Regions from separate parts of the Homo sapiens genome. Here regions 1, 3 and 4 are each reported to be linked to region 2. Evidence: microRNA targets listed by miRTarBase, many of them from high-throughput screens and not tested one by one. Region 2 holds a microRNA gene; each other region holds the end of a gene's coding sequence.

Region 1 (4,000 bases), not on the chromosome of region 2:
TTGGTTCATAATAAAAGGATAATTATTATTATTTGGGGAAAGAAGAAATTGCCTGCAGAATTGAAAGATTGCCTCTCAAGTAACAGGGAGAGAGGCATGTAAGCACGTGGGCTACAGTTCAGGCTTTCAAATAACAACATATGTGGTTCTGCTTTTACTGTAGTTGTCACTTTTCAGGTGAAAATGGCTTCACACATTTAAGGGATCTTACATGTCTGAGCAATATTCTATAATTATAAAAATAAGTGATTTATATTGTGAAATTGGAAAGTTTATGACATTGCAAATTATCATCTTGTTTTCCTGAATATATCATAAAATGGTATTTGGATCTATTTGATAATTTTGTGGGATATTTCTGAAGAATCAATGAGCATGTACATACAAGTAGTGACTTCTCAAATATTGTATTCAATTGCATCCTTTTCAGTACCTCAAGATTCCTGTATATTTTAGAGTATAATAAAATACAGATGTGAGTTGTGGCAACAAAAGAAAAAAGAATGTATAATACATAAATTACATCTTATCCACAAATGTAATTTTAATCCATTGTATATACCTTTCTTGCTTCTGTTTTCCATTCCTGGATTCAATAGGTATTTTCCTACGTTGGAATAGATCCTCTAAGTATTTGGATGAAGCATATGAAGAAATGGTTAACATCATTGAATATAATAAAGAATTACAAGCAAAAGTCAATATCCTTCGAAGGCAGTTGGCAGAACTGGAAACAGAGGACGGGATGCAGGAGAGTCCCTGAAAGGTCTCCTCGCACCCTTCGCAAGGACCTTCTTGGGCCTGTGTCCGCCGTTCTCTCCTTGTGCCCTTCAGTTCACTTTTACACGGTAGCCTTGAAGTGAAGGCTTTAGATGTGGGACCCCCCTAATGTAATGGATTTCTCAATACTGTATGAATAATGAAACTTACTATCATAAACCATGTTTCATGTGGCCTGTTAGGGCCTGTCACTTTGGGAGCCGGAAGGAGGTGCTAGTCATTTTATTTTTACGTGAAATAGATGACCTATTTAATGCCATTTGTGTTTCATGCCATTTTATCCAAAGCTTTTTCTCTGTGTCCACTCTCCAAACAGCATTCTAGAGCAGTCAAGGAGACAGCTAATCTCTCTAGGGACTATTTGGTGGTTTAAAAAAAGGGTCAGACTTTTAAACACTCTGACCATAGAAATGTTTTTCAAAATGGCAACAATGGATAAACCAAGGATTTTGTGTTTAACAATCCATTTCCAGTGTCTTCGCCACATAAAATAGCCATTTTCTTTAAAATAGTTTTGGACTAACGAAGCTGAAATCTATTCTCATTCTTGTTTGTCAAGAAAGGAAAATCTGTTATTCAAGGTAAATTATTTCTACAAGGGCAACAGGTATGGTCCTCCGATATTTACATTAAGAAGAGTTAAATTTATTTTAACGTAGACACTAAAAGTATGTGCAATATACAATTAAAGTAGGAATTTGTTACTGATTGAGAATTGTTACTGGTGAATTGGTTTTCAGGTTTTGAGCATACATATACAATGTGTTTCAAATGCTGCTTGTAAAATTAAACCATCATCTAGAATAGAGTTAATTTATTATAATCAAGCTACAAATAGGTTTTCTTAAACCAGAGATGCACTGCCCTTGTCTAAAGTTCTTATTGCACTGGTTTATATGTGTATGTGTGTTTTATTGTGTGTTTTTTTAATTTGTAAGTATTCTAAGAGTTTCCTAATACTAAGGTTAAAATTTTCATGTTGACCTGAGCCTTTTGCAAATTTGCTTTGGCTCTATTGATTTGTCCATTATGTGTTAGGCAAATATAACTTAAGTGGAGGGGGAAGTTTATGAATATAATATAGCTCTGTGTTTTAAACCTCAGAAACAGATTTGAGTGTTTCAGTATTATAGAAACAGTGATGACTATTCATGCTCTGCTAGTCTATGCCTGCAACTCCAAATGTTTGTGGTTCAGTATTTCCCACCTACATTTCTGTTTGGTGACATTGCTCATTTTAACAAATATGACCGAGTCTAGTTTTTCTTTAAAAGGATAGTTTATGAGTAATCTTTAAAACCATTTCCATACCATCTGTATATAACCATTTCGGTAGAGAACACACTACACTGAACCCTGCTTTAGAGCTGTGTGTTGAGCTAAAAATATAATTTTTTAAAAATTGACTAGCAAAATCTATGGCCACACTGAGAAGCCTTTGAAAATGGCAAATACTTTTCATCACCAATTGCCCAATTCATCTTTCTTCTGCTTCCTCAGCCTTGTAGCAAAGGCTACACAGCAGCCCACAGTCCACAGTCTTTTTGGGAAAATTGGCCTGCCACCTTCTTTAAGCTCAGTTTATTTTTGACTTACTTTCTTTGCTGTAGTTATGAACCTTGGGGCATTAAAATCCCATGGCAAGGAGCATAAGAGATGTTCTCGTAGCTCTGCGTTGTGTGAAATGTCCATCTTAGTTTTGTTAAAAAAAAAAAAAAAAAAAGGAAACAGCCTCACTTTTTTGTGCTCCCTCAGAATTGCTTGCTATGTCTGTTAATACAGCTGAGCTTTTTGTTTTCTTCTCTTTTTGTCTCAAGATTGTATATGAAGGAGGCTTTTCTTCTCAGCTAACAGGCATATAAGGAAAACCATCTAGAGAGTTTTCTTTAGAAGTGACTCCCATTAGCCTGGTGTGGTGGTGTGTGCCTATAGTCCCAGCCACTAGGAAAGCTGAGGCAGAAGGATCCCTTGAGCCTAGGAGGTTGAGGCTGCAGTGAGCTATGATCGCATCAGTCCACTCCAGCCTGAGCAACAGAGCGAGACCCTGTGTCTAAGTAAAGAAAAAGCCAGAAGTGACTCCCACTGCTTCTGTTGATCGGCCATAGGGCTTCCATGGGTGGAAACTTGTGAGGGAGTTTGTATTAGGTCTGGTCATGGAGGGATGATGTACCATCAAGGTAGACCCATCTTCCTGATGCACATTTGCTGTGCGAGCCAGAGTACAGTCATAACACGGTATTCGCATTTCGTTTTCTCTGTCTCACTGAGACAACAATCTATACTGTTTTGGCAAGTTTGCATTTTAGTATTAATTTATAATTAGGGATTGTTCAAACTTCAGATCTGTTTACAGGTTGTAAAAATAAACTTCGGTATCAGTGCATCTACAGAAGTGTTATTTGGTAATCCAAATATTAGAGTTTTCCCAAATCCAAAAACGGTCAGAAATAAGTCCATTATCAATATAATTTGAAGAAGATTTTTAGTAGTACTGTGAAGTTCGTGCTTACCTGGATGAGAAGAATAAATGACACGGATACACTCCTGAGAAGACACTCGTTAAACATTGCATCGGAGAGCTGCCTTTGATAAATGTGCTGTTAAACACTTGAATGAAGAGAATGGTGGCAGAATGAGTGAGCAAGCAGATTGCCCCAGAGGGGCCGGTAATAATCACGTGAGGGATAATCAGATTCCTGCGTATTCAGCATCTTCTCTATTCATGTGGAGTGAAAGCTGGTTTTTATACAGGAGATACGTAAAGTAGGCCCCACAAATAATATTTTTAAAATACAAAGGATCACCACAATCCTCTATTGAACATATAAGGATCCTCAGATTTAAATAAGTACTTTTTTTTTTTTTAATCAGAAGAACATTGTTGTTTGATTATATGTTTTTAAAAACCTGAAGCTTTTTTGGTGGCAGGACCTTTCAATAAATATTTATTTGGTCAAAATTTTTTATTTTGATTTTATTAAATGGGAAGAAAGCAAGCAGAAATAGTAAAATTCAGTAGGTTTAAAACAATCTATAAATGTATTTTATTTCCAAGAAAACTTAGGGTCTCAAAGCAAGATTTTAAAGTGATTTTTGAGAAGACTTGGGGGGGACAATAATAGACATTCATGTCAGATCCCATATGGGGGATTTTTAAACATTTCTTTGAACTTTGAGGCCTGATTTAGGGGTGGGATTTTATTGCTTTTTGTTTTAAAGG
Region 2 (4,153 bases):
TCTCCAGCCAATGGCCCAATTCAACAGCCTGTGAGGAATGGAAACATCCAAGCAATCACATAAATGAGCTTGGAAGGGAAATTCTCCCCTAGACAAGCCTTCAGATGAGACCACAGCCCTGGCTTATAGCTCATCTACAACTTCCTAAGAAACTTTGAACCAAAAGTACCCAGCTAAGCCACACTTGGATTCCTGATCTACAGACACTGTGAGAAAATAAATATTTGTTATTTTAAGTTGATAAGTTTTGGGATAATTTCTTATGCAACAGTAGATAATTGATTCAATGGGAAAAATAATCAAGTATATGTTGCAGATAATTGACAACTTTGGGCAAAGACTATGTTTGGGATTCTAAATGGAATAAAACATTTAATAGAGTCAGAGTGTAAGAAATACAATGATATATGTTCAAGGATGCATCACAGTATAAAGCAACATGCCACAGGATACTATAGCAAAACATTCATTTTCATGATTTCACTTATTTCTTAAGGTACATATGCAATATGTCTTAGAAGAGACAACACAGAAGCTCAGCAGAGCCTCACTAGAAAACTCTGACTTGCCTTCCCTCACTTCCCAATGACCTAACATGAAAACGCAAAAAGTTACATAGGAATATTGGTTAAAAAGTCTGGTAGATTTCTTTTTTTTTTTTTTTTTTTTTTAACTCATTTTTATCAAAATTTGTGCAGTTGTAAAAATTTTTTTTTTTTTATTATACTCTAAGTTTTAGGGTACATGTGCACATTGTGCAGGTTAGTTACATATGTATACATGTGCCATGCTGGTGCGCTGCACCCACTAACGTGTCATCTAACATTAGGTATATCTCCCAATGCTATCCCTCCCCCGACCCCACCACAGTCCCCAGAGTGTGATATTCCCCTTCCTGTGTCCATGTGATCTCATTGTTCAATTCCCACCTATGCGTGAGAATATGCGGTGTTTGGTTTTTTGTTCTTGCGATAGTTTACTGAGAGTGATGGTTTCCAATTTCATCCATGTCCCTACAAAGGACATGAACTCATCATTTTTTATGGCTGCATAGTATTCCATGGTGTATATGTGCCACATTTTCTTAATCCAGTCTATCATTGTTGGACATTTGGGTTGGTTCCAAGTCTTTGCTATTGTGAATAGTGCCGCAATAAACATACGTGTGCATGTGTCTTTATAGCAGCATGATTTATAGTCCTTTGGGTATATACCCAGTAATGGGATGGCTGGGTCAAATGGTATTTCTAGTTCTAGATCCCTGAGGAATCGCCACACTGACTTCCACAATGGTTGAACTAGTTTACAGTCCCACCAACAGTGTAAAAGTGTTCCTATTTCTCCACATCCTCTCCAGCACCTGTTGTTTCCTGACTTTTTAATGATTGCCATTCTAACTGGTGTGAGATGATATCTCATAGTGGTTTTGATTTGCATTTCTCTGATGGCCAGTGATGATGAGCATTTCTTCATGTGTTTTTTGGCTGCATAAATGTCTTCTTTGTCACCACCAGGCCTGCCCTAAAAGAGCTCCTGAAGGTAGATTTCAAGTAAAATCACTAACAAAGGATGCTACGCGGTCCAGGGCTTTCACCTACCAGAGGATACAGAGGAGTCACTCTCCCCTCCAACCACACAAAACAGACTACAGAGGTCTTTTTATGTATGCTTTTAAGGAATTCCATTCCTGGGATTCAACATAGCTGAGGCATATATGGACAGATGGTGGAGCATTGTATCCAGAGATATCAAGATGAGAGGATAAAAGAAGAGAAATCGTTGAAGTTTCCTTGCTCTTATTAGTACATTTAAAAAAATCATAGTCCATGGGCTGTTACAACAAGTTCTCAATGTTTTCCATTTTTATATTTGCCTTGTTATAATCCTTAAAATTAATTAATCTTAAAATACATAATTGCCAAAGTTTTGTTCTATTTAAAACTGTGATTTTATTTAATATTGACATTACAAGTCCATTTCTGGAATCTGCCTGCCACAGAGGTTTGGTCCATCAGATAGTGTGGTTTCACAGTTAATAGAGTCTCTAGGCAGACTGCCTGGGTTTGAAACCTGGCTCTCCTAATTATTGGCTGTTTCACCTTGGGTAAGTGCTTCCATGCTTCAGTTTCCTTACTGGTAAGATGGATGTAGTAATAGCACCTACCTTATAGAATTATTTTGAGGAATCAATGAGTTATTATTTGTAAAGTGCTTAGAACAGCAACAGCTCCACAAATGGTCTCCTTCCCACTAATTCTGTAATAAAACAGCAAGTGCTGGGGGAAGGTGGGGGTGATGGGGGGCAAGAAAAGGAACCTGAAGCTTCTCCAGTGCATAGAAGTTTCTTTTGCCTCAGGAGTCATCCTGACCCAGAAACGGTGTTAGTGGTGTAACATTGGGCTACTTTGTGTTCGCTGGAAATCCCAGACTAATATTAATATTCATGGGATAGTCTCTGGAAGCCTAGACTTGGACCCACTTATACCTTAGTGCTTAAATTGTACAGACACTCAGACAGGTATGAATTAAACTTGGGTGGGGGGCAGCTTATTCGGCCATCAATTTTTATTTTATAGTTCTATGTGTGTGTGTGTTTTGAAAAACAAATGGTTCATTTTCTTGCTCCTGTGGGAGCAAAGCAAGTCATAAACTTAAAGCAAGTGTCTGCAAAAAACTTTCCAGGCACCAGTCTTTCTGACAGACAGAACATCATCTATTCAGTAGAAAAAGTCAAACTTGCTTGCTATCTTTTAATACTCAAAAACAAAAACAAAAACAAAACCCAACAACACTGAGACTGGTAGCTTTTCCATGGTTATCTCCATCTAAACCTTCATGAATAGATTCCTTCCTCCAGGAATAAGGAATGAAGACCTAGGACTGACAAGCAAGAAACATGAGCTCCATCCATGTTTGTTCTCTGGCGTAAACTCTGTAACTTGGAGGAAGGCTTTTGGTTTCTGAGGTTGGGCTGGGAATTCTGCAGGGCATAGACAACTTGCTCTCAATGGAGAAAACACACAAGCACACACTCAGAGAGACTCAGACAACTTGCATGCATACACACACAAAATTCTCACATGTAGACACACCTTCAAGATACACATTTACATTAATGTTCACAGGTCTAAGGTGTTAAGACTCAGGGAGGATCATGGAGGGGTGAGGGGCTTAGATCAGTTCAGAAGAGGAAACTTTTCAGATAGATTTCTGTCAAAGTAAAATTGAGGTGCAGAGCCCTCTTCGAGCCCTTCATCAAGATTCACAAAAATAAGGCATTAGGCTAGAAATAGCTCTCTGCAGGCATTTATATATACCTTTAAACTCCATTGTTTGAAGCCTATCAATTTGGAGTGCTGAATTCTACTAGATTCTAAGATATTAGAGTAAGATAGAAAGATGAATTTTAGTCAACCAATCAATGTGCACTCAATGGATGCCTACTACAGTCACAGGCAGTGCCCTCTGGGCCCTGGGATAGAGAGATGATTGAGATATTATCCCTACCCGATGATAGTCTAGTAGGGAAGATGAGACTAATACATATGAAACCAGCTAATCTAACTTCAACGTTAGACTATTAGAGCCCAAAAAGTGTCCTGCCTTGTCAAACATGCTATTTTGCCATTGAAATACTGCTATCCAGACATAGTAAGTAAATTTCTTATGGCCACATGATCAAATAATAGACCAGTTCTTCTAGAGAGAATTACTCTCTCCATCCCTTTGCATTGTTTTATAATTTTATAAAAAACTTTTACATGGCTCTGTGCTTTAACTAGGCATCTGCCTGTCTGTCCTTCCTTCAGGGATGTGATGCCCCACAGGTAAGAACCTGACCTTATACATTTAAGGAGCGCACAGTGACTGATAAGGCCATATTTAGCCAGGAGGTGCTCAACTCATCAGCCTTAAGTGATCGGAAAGGATCAAAGACAACAGTCCAGGGAATTCCTCTTGGCCAAGGTCGCCATTCATTACACCAGATAGCACAGGTAGTAAAGACCTAAATCTTGGATACAAATTCGAGGTAAGATATTTTAAACTTGGCGTAAAATTATAGACCTGTTTCTAAGCCCTTCTGTCTTCTTCTCCATTTTAAACTCAGTTGCTTTATAATTTTACATAAAAGGGTAATGCATTTTCATTTCAG
Region 3 (4,000 bases), not on the chromosome of region 2:
ATAGTATATGAGGACTGTACAGTACAAATTTATGTTCACAGTTTGACATGACAAAATGTCATTACTGAATTCCCATTGGACTACAGAGTAGAAACAGAGAAGGTACATTAAACATTCACATCTTTAGTAAGAAAGATTACCAAAATGTTTCAGTATCTGCAAGTATACTAATGCATGCTAAAAACCTTTACCCATTCAGTCTTATTAGCTTATAAAATATATTACACTTTATTAAAAATTTCTGCATAGTTTATACAAGTATTAAAGTACTGTAAATGTAATAATCCTGCTATATTTGCAGGTATGGTTTAAGAGATGCTAAGCAGAAAGATTATTTTGACCCTCTAACACTAAGTACATAACAGAAAAAAAAGTGCTAGTATTTGTAAAACAATATTGTTGTAGCCCTCGTTTAATGCATGTAAAGATGGCTTTGTAAATGTATTGTTTAGGTGAATTTGCGATCATTTAGCAATTGTTAACCTTGACCAAGAAGAGAATAAAGACAGCTCGGAGCAACTTCATGTATGACAGCAATTCCTTCAAGACAACTGTATATTTTCAAACCAAATTATTTTAAAACCTTAGATCTTTCAGATTGTCTTTACAACAATCTAATCAGGAATGATGCGCATATATACAGTATCAGCAAAATAGTCTTTCAAATTCCACATTAGTGCAATACTGATAGTGCAGATGGGTGTTTAATAAAATATACATATACATATATAGTTCCCCTGTAATTCTGTTCCAAGGCTCTTGAAACTTCTGTGTATTTAGCATCTCCCTAGTTGAATATAGCTATGCTGCTAACACATTCTCCAAACCAAGCAATTTAGAATGTTAATGCCCATTTATGATGTAGATTCACATAACTCTAAAATACGATGGATTCTGATTCTTCTGACTTCTCTAGGATGACACTTGGGTAACAACTGAAGAAACTCTATAACAAACAGAATTTACGTAATAGTAACTTCATGTTTACAAATCATTCTCATCAATTTAAAATATTGCGATTGAAATCACCATTGATAGTAACATGACACACATCATTAAAACATGTTCAAGGGCATCTAATCTTGTATTTGAGGTCTTCCACAATAACAGCTAAAAATGACTAAGAGGCTAAATTTCTCAACTATCATAGTAAAATACAAATATATATATAAGAAAAGTTTGGTAAGGGCCAATTGGTAATGAAAGCGTATTGACCAGCATGGGAATAGAGAATGGCCGCTCTGGGTTGCTTTTGTTCAGAGTTAAAACGGATCTTTGTTAAATGAACTGTTAACACAATCTAAGCAAGCTGAACAGTAATGTTAAGAGTCTTTGCAAGGTCTTGCTTCAAATCTTTTGAACAAAATTTAAATATGCCACAGCAAATGCATCAATTCCATGAGATGCCCATGAGGCTATTCACTGAACTCAGGCTCAAAGCTGATCCCAGATCAATCTGATCCTTTCTCGCCCTTTCCCCCACTTCTCTATGGATTGGAACACACATAAACTGGTTACCTCGGTCAAAACAAAAAGATTTTCCTTGCGTTCCATCTTGATTCTTGTGTGTTGTGAAAGAACCATCTCAAGAAATGAACACTTTGCCATGAATATGACTAAGCATTTACAATACAGACAATATCTACTTTTCAAAGAGCCATTTTATCACTCAATTCATGTCATAGTTGCAAAAAAGAAAAACTTCAGCTGAAAAAAAAATTATCTTTGCCTTTAGCTGAAAAACAAAACAAAACAAAAAAACAGCCCAATTAGGATGTTTTAGTATCCTAAAGAAGTTTTGCAGTGCTTTAAAAAAAGGAAAATCAAACCCAAGTGCCAAGATAACACATTTCTTTGCATTTCTTAACTACATTTCTTTACAGCTGGTTCACAGGGCGGATGAGTGGGACCTCTTAGCCTCTTAGGTGCACAGTCCCTACAACTTTTATTAACACAGTGCCATCAAAGCAAGCTCCCCACACAATTCACAGGCCTCCGGAATCACTCATTCACAGATGTTTTAAAAATGATCAAACAATGTATTCCTCCCAGTTAAAGTTGTGTTGGATCCTGAGTTGCGGCTGGGATGAATCTTCAGGATTTCATTCTTCTCTCTTCTCCTCCATTCTTGATGAAGGGGAATTTGGTTATATGCACCCACATTTAACTACTGTTGCTCACTTTCTTCAAATTCAGGACCAATGACATTTCTATGTATGAATTATTTTTATTGGCATTTAGACTATGGTGCTCAAAAGCCTGCTTTTGAATAACTTCCCCCAATAATGGTGCTATTTATCTTCAACATAAACACGAGCCATTATTTTCAGTTTGTTCTGACACTGAAATAGTGATAGGAAATTGCCAACTCTAACAGTAAACTTTTGGGAATTTTTGAGCTACATATATGAATCCCTGATCTGTGGTTTTCTATATTTTCTCATAAATTCCCAAAATAAAGGTATGTGTGCTTCACAACTAGTTATATTTACAAATAGTGTCACTCAGGTCTTAATTGAATCAATCCATTAAAGCATTAGCAGATGCTTTATGGTATGTGTCATGAATACAAATGACAGCCAATTTGGCACCTTAACAGCTCACACAGGAAGAGTTTCTGTATAAAAGCTATGTGATTAATTTGATAAGGGAATACAAGTACCACTCAACATTTCCCTGTTTACAAAAAAAGCTATAAGCAGATTGGGTAAAAGAAGAACCATCCATACTCTTACCCGAAAGATTTCTTACCATTACTGGGCAAATATTCCATGGAGTCCCTACTATCAATGTTTGATGATCTCATATTAAGGACATTGTAGGAATGGAGATAGTTGCATGGATAACCCCATCGGTATATGGCTTTGCAGCATGGTTCTACAAAGCTGAGTATGCACAGAGACTGAAGCTCTGGGAATGCTGCACACAGCTAACAAAATGTTGAAACCTCACTGACAACCCCTAGCCCAGGAGGAATTGCCTCTTCTGCTCCCCCTGCTAAATGGCCCTCTCCTCCGACTCCATGCTATGAAAACACAGCACCCTTCCCTTGAACTGCTACACATCACCCACCTAGATCGAAAGTTTGGGCTCATCTCCCATTGGTGGCAAAGACCTCCATATGAGCTGCAGGCACAAAGGAGGGCAAAGAACTCGATTCAGATGAAGTCTAAGATCCAGGTTGACAAGATTTGTGAAGAATGACGGAAGAGGTGACTGCACTAGCTTGAAATCTGGCTGTACTTCTAGCTAACCGGTGCAAGGGGCCACACTTGTTTTCACTGTCAAGCATAAAATATTATCACAGGGCAGAGGTAAGAATGTCTCTGGCAAGGACTAGCAGTCTGGATACTGTATTTCTAATACATTTACTCTGACATTCTTTTGAGGAATACATGGAGAACTGACAATTGGTTATGTTAGTTTACATGTTCCCTTGTTCTTATTACATTAAACGTATCTGTAAGAAGGGTTTGCTTAGCATCCCCAGAAAAAAAAAAAAAAGTGTTCACATTCTTTAGGTCTGACCCGTGGTAAGGAGAGGGAGGATTAGAGAACATCTACTACTGACCATATGGAAGTTTTGGATGATATAAATTCAGAGATTCAGACCAGCTGAATCAAATTAAAATGTACATGTAAAAAATGTGTTAGATAATGGGAGGCAGGACAGAGAGAGAGCCAGGTGAGTGGGGAGTCACGCTGAGGCAGGACACAGAGGCAATCAGACTAGCATGTGGCGTTTCCTATGGAGGGCAAGATGGTCAGAACGGGAGAAGCTGCGGTCACAGTCCGGGCACTGGAAAGGTTTGATTCCAGTATGTTTTCGGAAATGTCTTGTTAGTTCATCAGACCGAGCAAACTTCCATGTGCACCCTTCCCATGTACATTTGTAGGGTTTTTCTCCTGCAAAAGGAAAAAGAAAAGAGCTATTTTTTTTTTCTGTAAAGGTAGTAAAGATCTTTGAGTTAATGCTTGACAAATATTATTTCCAAGATAT
Region 4 (4,000 bases), not on the chromosome of region 2:
AATCAGTTCTTACAGAATTCTAAATGGGATATTTGGCTTCCCAAGATAAATTAAAGAACACTATATGAAGAATTGACATATGATGTGTTTGCTTAAAAATGCACTCTGCAGCTGGGCATGGTGGCTCACACCTGTAATCCCAGCACTTTGGGAGGCCGAGGCAGGCAGATCATTTGAGGTCAGGAGTTCAAAACCAGGCTGGCCAACATGGTGAAACCCTATCTCTACTAAAAATACAAAAATTAGCTGGGTGTCATGGTGTGCACCTGTAATCCCAGCTACTTGGGAGGCTGAGGCAGGAGAATCGCTTGAACCCAGGAGGCGGAGGTTGCAGTGAGCTGAGATTGTACCACTGTACTCCAGCCAGGGCGACATGTCAAAAAAACAAAACAAAACCAAAGCACTCTGCAAGCTTCCTGGCTAACTCTTGTACATTGCAGCAGGGGAAGTTTGATGCCTCTGAGGGCGATGCCAAAGCCAGGCGGGCTGCTGGGGTGTGAGCATGGAGTAAATGCAGCAAGGTCACAGATGACGGATGATGACTGCGGTGGGAAAACCCACATAGCGGCCTGCAAGCACGTCTCAGGAAGAGCTGTCTTGCTAGGGGCAAACTTACGGTAAAGGATGACGCCATCATTTGATAAAATGTTCTGTCATGCTTTTAGTGGCGAGTTTTTAACAATAAAGCAAAACACTCACCATGAACCAAATGTTAAAATCAATGTCAACCAAGTCACATCATTTCCTGTTCCACTTGGTTTTGAAATTCAACTTCTCCTTTATTTAAAAATGACATCAAAACCAGTCTTCTCTTGAAGAGGTAATTTAGGAAATGGAGCAATTTACTGTGGTTTTAGAGGATGTAAAGTGCTCCGTGCAGTTGGACATGTACAGGGCAGCAGCTGGAGGCATGAGGACGTAGAGCCGTCATTCAATGTGGTCCCCGGGCCAGCAGCAACTGCACAACATGGGAGCTCCTTAGAAAGGCAGGATCCTGGACCTCACCCTGTTTCAGAACCTACATCTTTTTTTTTTTTAATTTGCAAAAATTTATTCATATACAAATGTGCAATATCAATAAAATGACCAAACAGGTTTGTTCTTGAAACATTTTCAATTGAATGGGAATTAAATGCTTTTGAAAAGTGACAAAATGATCATACAGTGAAGTTGTCTCTTTCTTTATATAACAAGCATAAATCAAGTACTAACTCTTGATTTTACTCTGAATTAACCATGACATACTAAATGAACTTGGGCTTCAGGCAGAACCTACATCTTAAGGCGAGCTCCAGGCGATGGGTATGCACATTAAGGCTTAGGAAGCACACTGTTCTAGGTTAACAGCTCAGGTCTCTGGGCTTAGCACTACAGGGAGAACGTGACTAGGAAGTGCAGACTTGGGTTCTGATCTCAGGCTTACCACTAAATATCTGCTGTTTCCCACAGCCCTGCCCGCTTCTCAGGACTGTGGGGGACCAAATGGGATCCTTATTAACAAGGTCCTGTAAGATCTGGGTCCAGCCTGCCTCAGACCTTATCATGTAATACTTTCTATTTTGAGTTGGGCTTTCTAACCAGGCTGACCTCAAGTAGAGTTTGTTTCTGCCTCAGGGCCTTTGCACAGGCTGTTTTCTCTGCCTGGAACACCCTCCCTTTTGACCTCTGCACTGCAGCTGCCTCCTGTTAATCAGATCTCAGCCTAAATGTTGTCTCTCCAGTGAGACCCTCCAGGGACTGCACGAGTATCAAATACCTTTGTCAAGAAATAAAACCTCCCCAGGCCGTGCGCAGTGGCTCACGCCTATAATTCCAGCACTTTGGGAGGCCGAGGTGGGTGGATCACCTGGGGTCAGGAGCTCGAGACCAGCTTGGCCAACATCATGAAACCCCATCTCTACTAAAAATACAAAAAATTAGTTGGGTGTGGTGGTGTGCACCTATAATACCAGCTACTCGGGAGGCTGGGGCAGGAGAATCTCTTGAACCCAGGAGGTGGAGGCTGCAGTGAGCCGTGTTCACACCACTGCCACTCCAGCCTGGGTAACAAGAGGGAAACTCCGTCTCAAAAAAGAAAAAAAAAAAAGACCTCCCTTGCTTTCCCCTACTGATTTCTCTTGGAAATGACAGCAATGTTACCCTGATTACTCTCGCAGCCCATACCCTGCAAATGGAAATCTGCCAACTTCAACCAGGAAGAAAAGACTGGAATGCAGGTTGCTTTTTATAGCATTTCAAGGAAAGATCATTCATTCACTGCCTATACATCCTTCCTTCCGGCATCACTGTGAGACTCTGCATGCACATTAATTTCATCCATTCCTCTTGAAAAAGTGAAGGACTTAAACCAGAAAAGCGGCCACAGGTCACAATACAAGATGGTTAACGTCACTCCGTTAACAGTGCCTTGGCCAAGGACAGCCAGATGGCCCGGAGGCTGACTTGGCAAAGCTGCTGGAGAGTTGGGGAGGGCTGCGGGTTAACAGCAGGGAGCACATACTTCATTAAACTACAAGCCGGGAGCCGTCCAGAGGTGCCTTCTGCTGCAGAATGGAAATTTAATAATGGTTTATTGGTTTAGTTGTGATTTTCAATTAAGCACGACAGAAATTGGTTTTAAGTCCAATATTAGAGGTTCTAAAATGTTAGTTTACACAGTCTAATGATGTATGACGGGAGAAGGCCACAGCTGTTTTCTTTAATCTATTTACAATCTTCGCAGCAGAAAGGCTAAATGAACTCTCCTACCATTATCAGGTCAGGGCTAAATGCAGCCCCGATCACAGGCAGTGATGCCTTCTTATGAACTACTTCTGCCTGACTTTCCTTAGCTCAGAAAATACTACAAAGGGAAAAGGCGTGCTGAGAGCCTCTGCTGCTCCGCCAAGTGTGCAGAACAAACAGTACAATGGCCCCATCTACTGACACGGGCTAAAACAGCAGACAGGACATGCAGCAACACAAGCAATCCTGCCTCGAGCTCCGCTTCACGCCCGTGACCCACAGCACTGCTGAGGAATGTCTGATGCCTAGTAAACTACTTTATTATTGTCCTCAGGCACAACGTGATACGAGGGGTTTCTAGTATTTTCTCTACGGTTCCAGGTCTTCATTCTTGTTTACGCCTAGTGTGTTTTTTTTGGAAATGGAGTCTCGCTCTGTCGCCCAGGCTAGAGTGCAATGGCACGATCTTGGCTCACTGCAAGCTCCACCTCCCGGGTTCACACCATTCTCCTGCCTCAGCCTCCTGAGTAGATGGGCCCGCCACCATGCCTGGCTAATTTTTTGTATTTTTAGTAGAGATGGGTTTAGTAGAGATGGGGTTTAGTAGCCAGGATGGTCTTGATCTCCTGACCTCATGAGTTTATGCCTAGTTTGTTTTTTTTTTGTTTTTTGTTTTTTTTTTTGAGACAAAGTCTCACTGTCACCCAGGCTGGAGTGCAATGGCACGACCTCGGCTCACTGCAACCTCCTGCTCCCAGGTTCAAGCGATTCTCCTGCCCCGGCCTCCTGAGTAGCTGGGATTACAGGTGCACACCACCAACACCCGGCTAATTATTTTGTATTTTTAGTAAAGATGGGGTTTCACCATGTTGGTCGGTTGGTCTCGAACTCCTGACCTCATGATCCGCCCGCCTCGGCCTCCCAAAGTGCTGGGATTACAGGCTTGAGTCACCATGCCTGGCTGTTTATGCCTAGTTTTAAATTAGCTGGACAGCTCCAGATGCAACCAGAGGTGCAATGGTTTTGTATCGGATCAAGTGCTGTGAGCCCTTCTCCAGGTCAATCACGTAGTCCCTGAAAAAGAGGGAAACACATTTGCCTGCAGAGCTCGGCTGGCCCTCCATCGGGAGGAATGTGCCCACTGTGAAAGATGCACGCCACTCACCTCTGCTCATCTGTGTCTGGTTCTACCAGTATGTTTTCTTGTCGTTCTCTCACTCTCAGAAACACGTAAGAATCTAGATCTGGTTTGGGAACTGCCAGGAAAACAACAATG

What was found. Region 2 holds the annotated microRNA hsa-miR-302e (UAAGUGCUUCCAUGCUU, at 2,106-2,122, shown strand). A microRNA usually pairs through its seed, bases 2 to 8, with sites in the 3' UTR of a target mRNA and lowers its output. Matches are read on the target gene's strand: a 7mer-m8 pairs with bases 2 to 8, a 7mer-A1 pairs with bases 2 to 7 and ends in A, and an 8mer does both.
Region 1: the mRNA of MTMR9 is a reported target of hsa-miR-302e. The part of its 3' UTR that is shown has no 7-base or 8-base seed match.
Region 3: the mRNA of KLF3 is a reported target of hsa-miR-302e. Seed matches in the 3' UTR shown: 7mer-m8 at 372-378.
Region 4: miRTarBase lists GINS4 as a target of hsa-miR-302e. Seed matches in the 3' UTR shown: 7mer-m8 at 3,649-3,655 and 7mer-m8 at 866-872.

The regions. Positions count from the first base shown.
Region 1 is chr8:11,322,026-11,326,025 of GRCh38, forward strand. It overlaps MTMR9 (myotubularin related protein 9), which reads left to right. Exons shown (of 10, transcript NM_015458.4): 10 at 600-4,000. The coding sequence ends at 763. MTMR9-AS1 (MTMR9 antisense RNA 1) reads right to left here and starts at 3,403. Exons shown (of 2, transcript NR_189628.1): 1 at 3,291-3,403.
Region 2 is chr11:7,232,666-7,236,818 of GRCh38, forward strand. MIR302E (microRNA 302e) reads left to right here and starts at 2,101; the gene lies at 2,101-2,172.
Region 3 is chr4:38,696,988-38,700,987 of GRCh38, reverse strand. KLF3 (KLF transcription factor 3) reads right to left here. Exons shown (of 6, transcript NM_016531.6): 6 at 1-3,906. The coding sequence ends at 3,725. Among named protein-coding and RNA genes, the nearest start is that of KLF3-AS1, 34 kb to the right of the region's middle.
Region 4 is chr8:41,541,789-41,545,788 of GRCh38, reverse strand. It overlaps GINS4 (GINS complex subunit 4), which reads right to left. Exons shown (of 8, transcript NM_032336.3): 7 at 3,890-3,980; 8 at 759-3,798. The coding sequence ends at 3,702. All of the region lies in intron 1 of GPAT4-AS1 (GPAT4 and GINS4 antisense RNA 1), which reads left to right. Among named protein-coding and RNA genes, the nearest start is that of GINS4, 15 kb to the right of the region's middle. RefSeq lists enhancers at 349-438, 499-648, 2,613-2,842.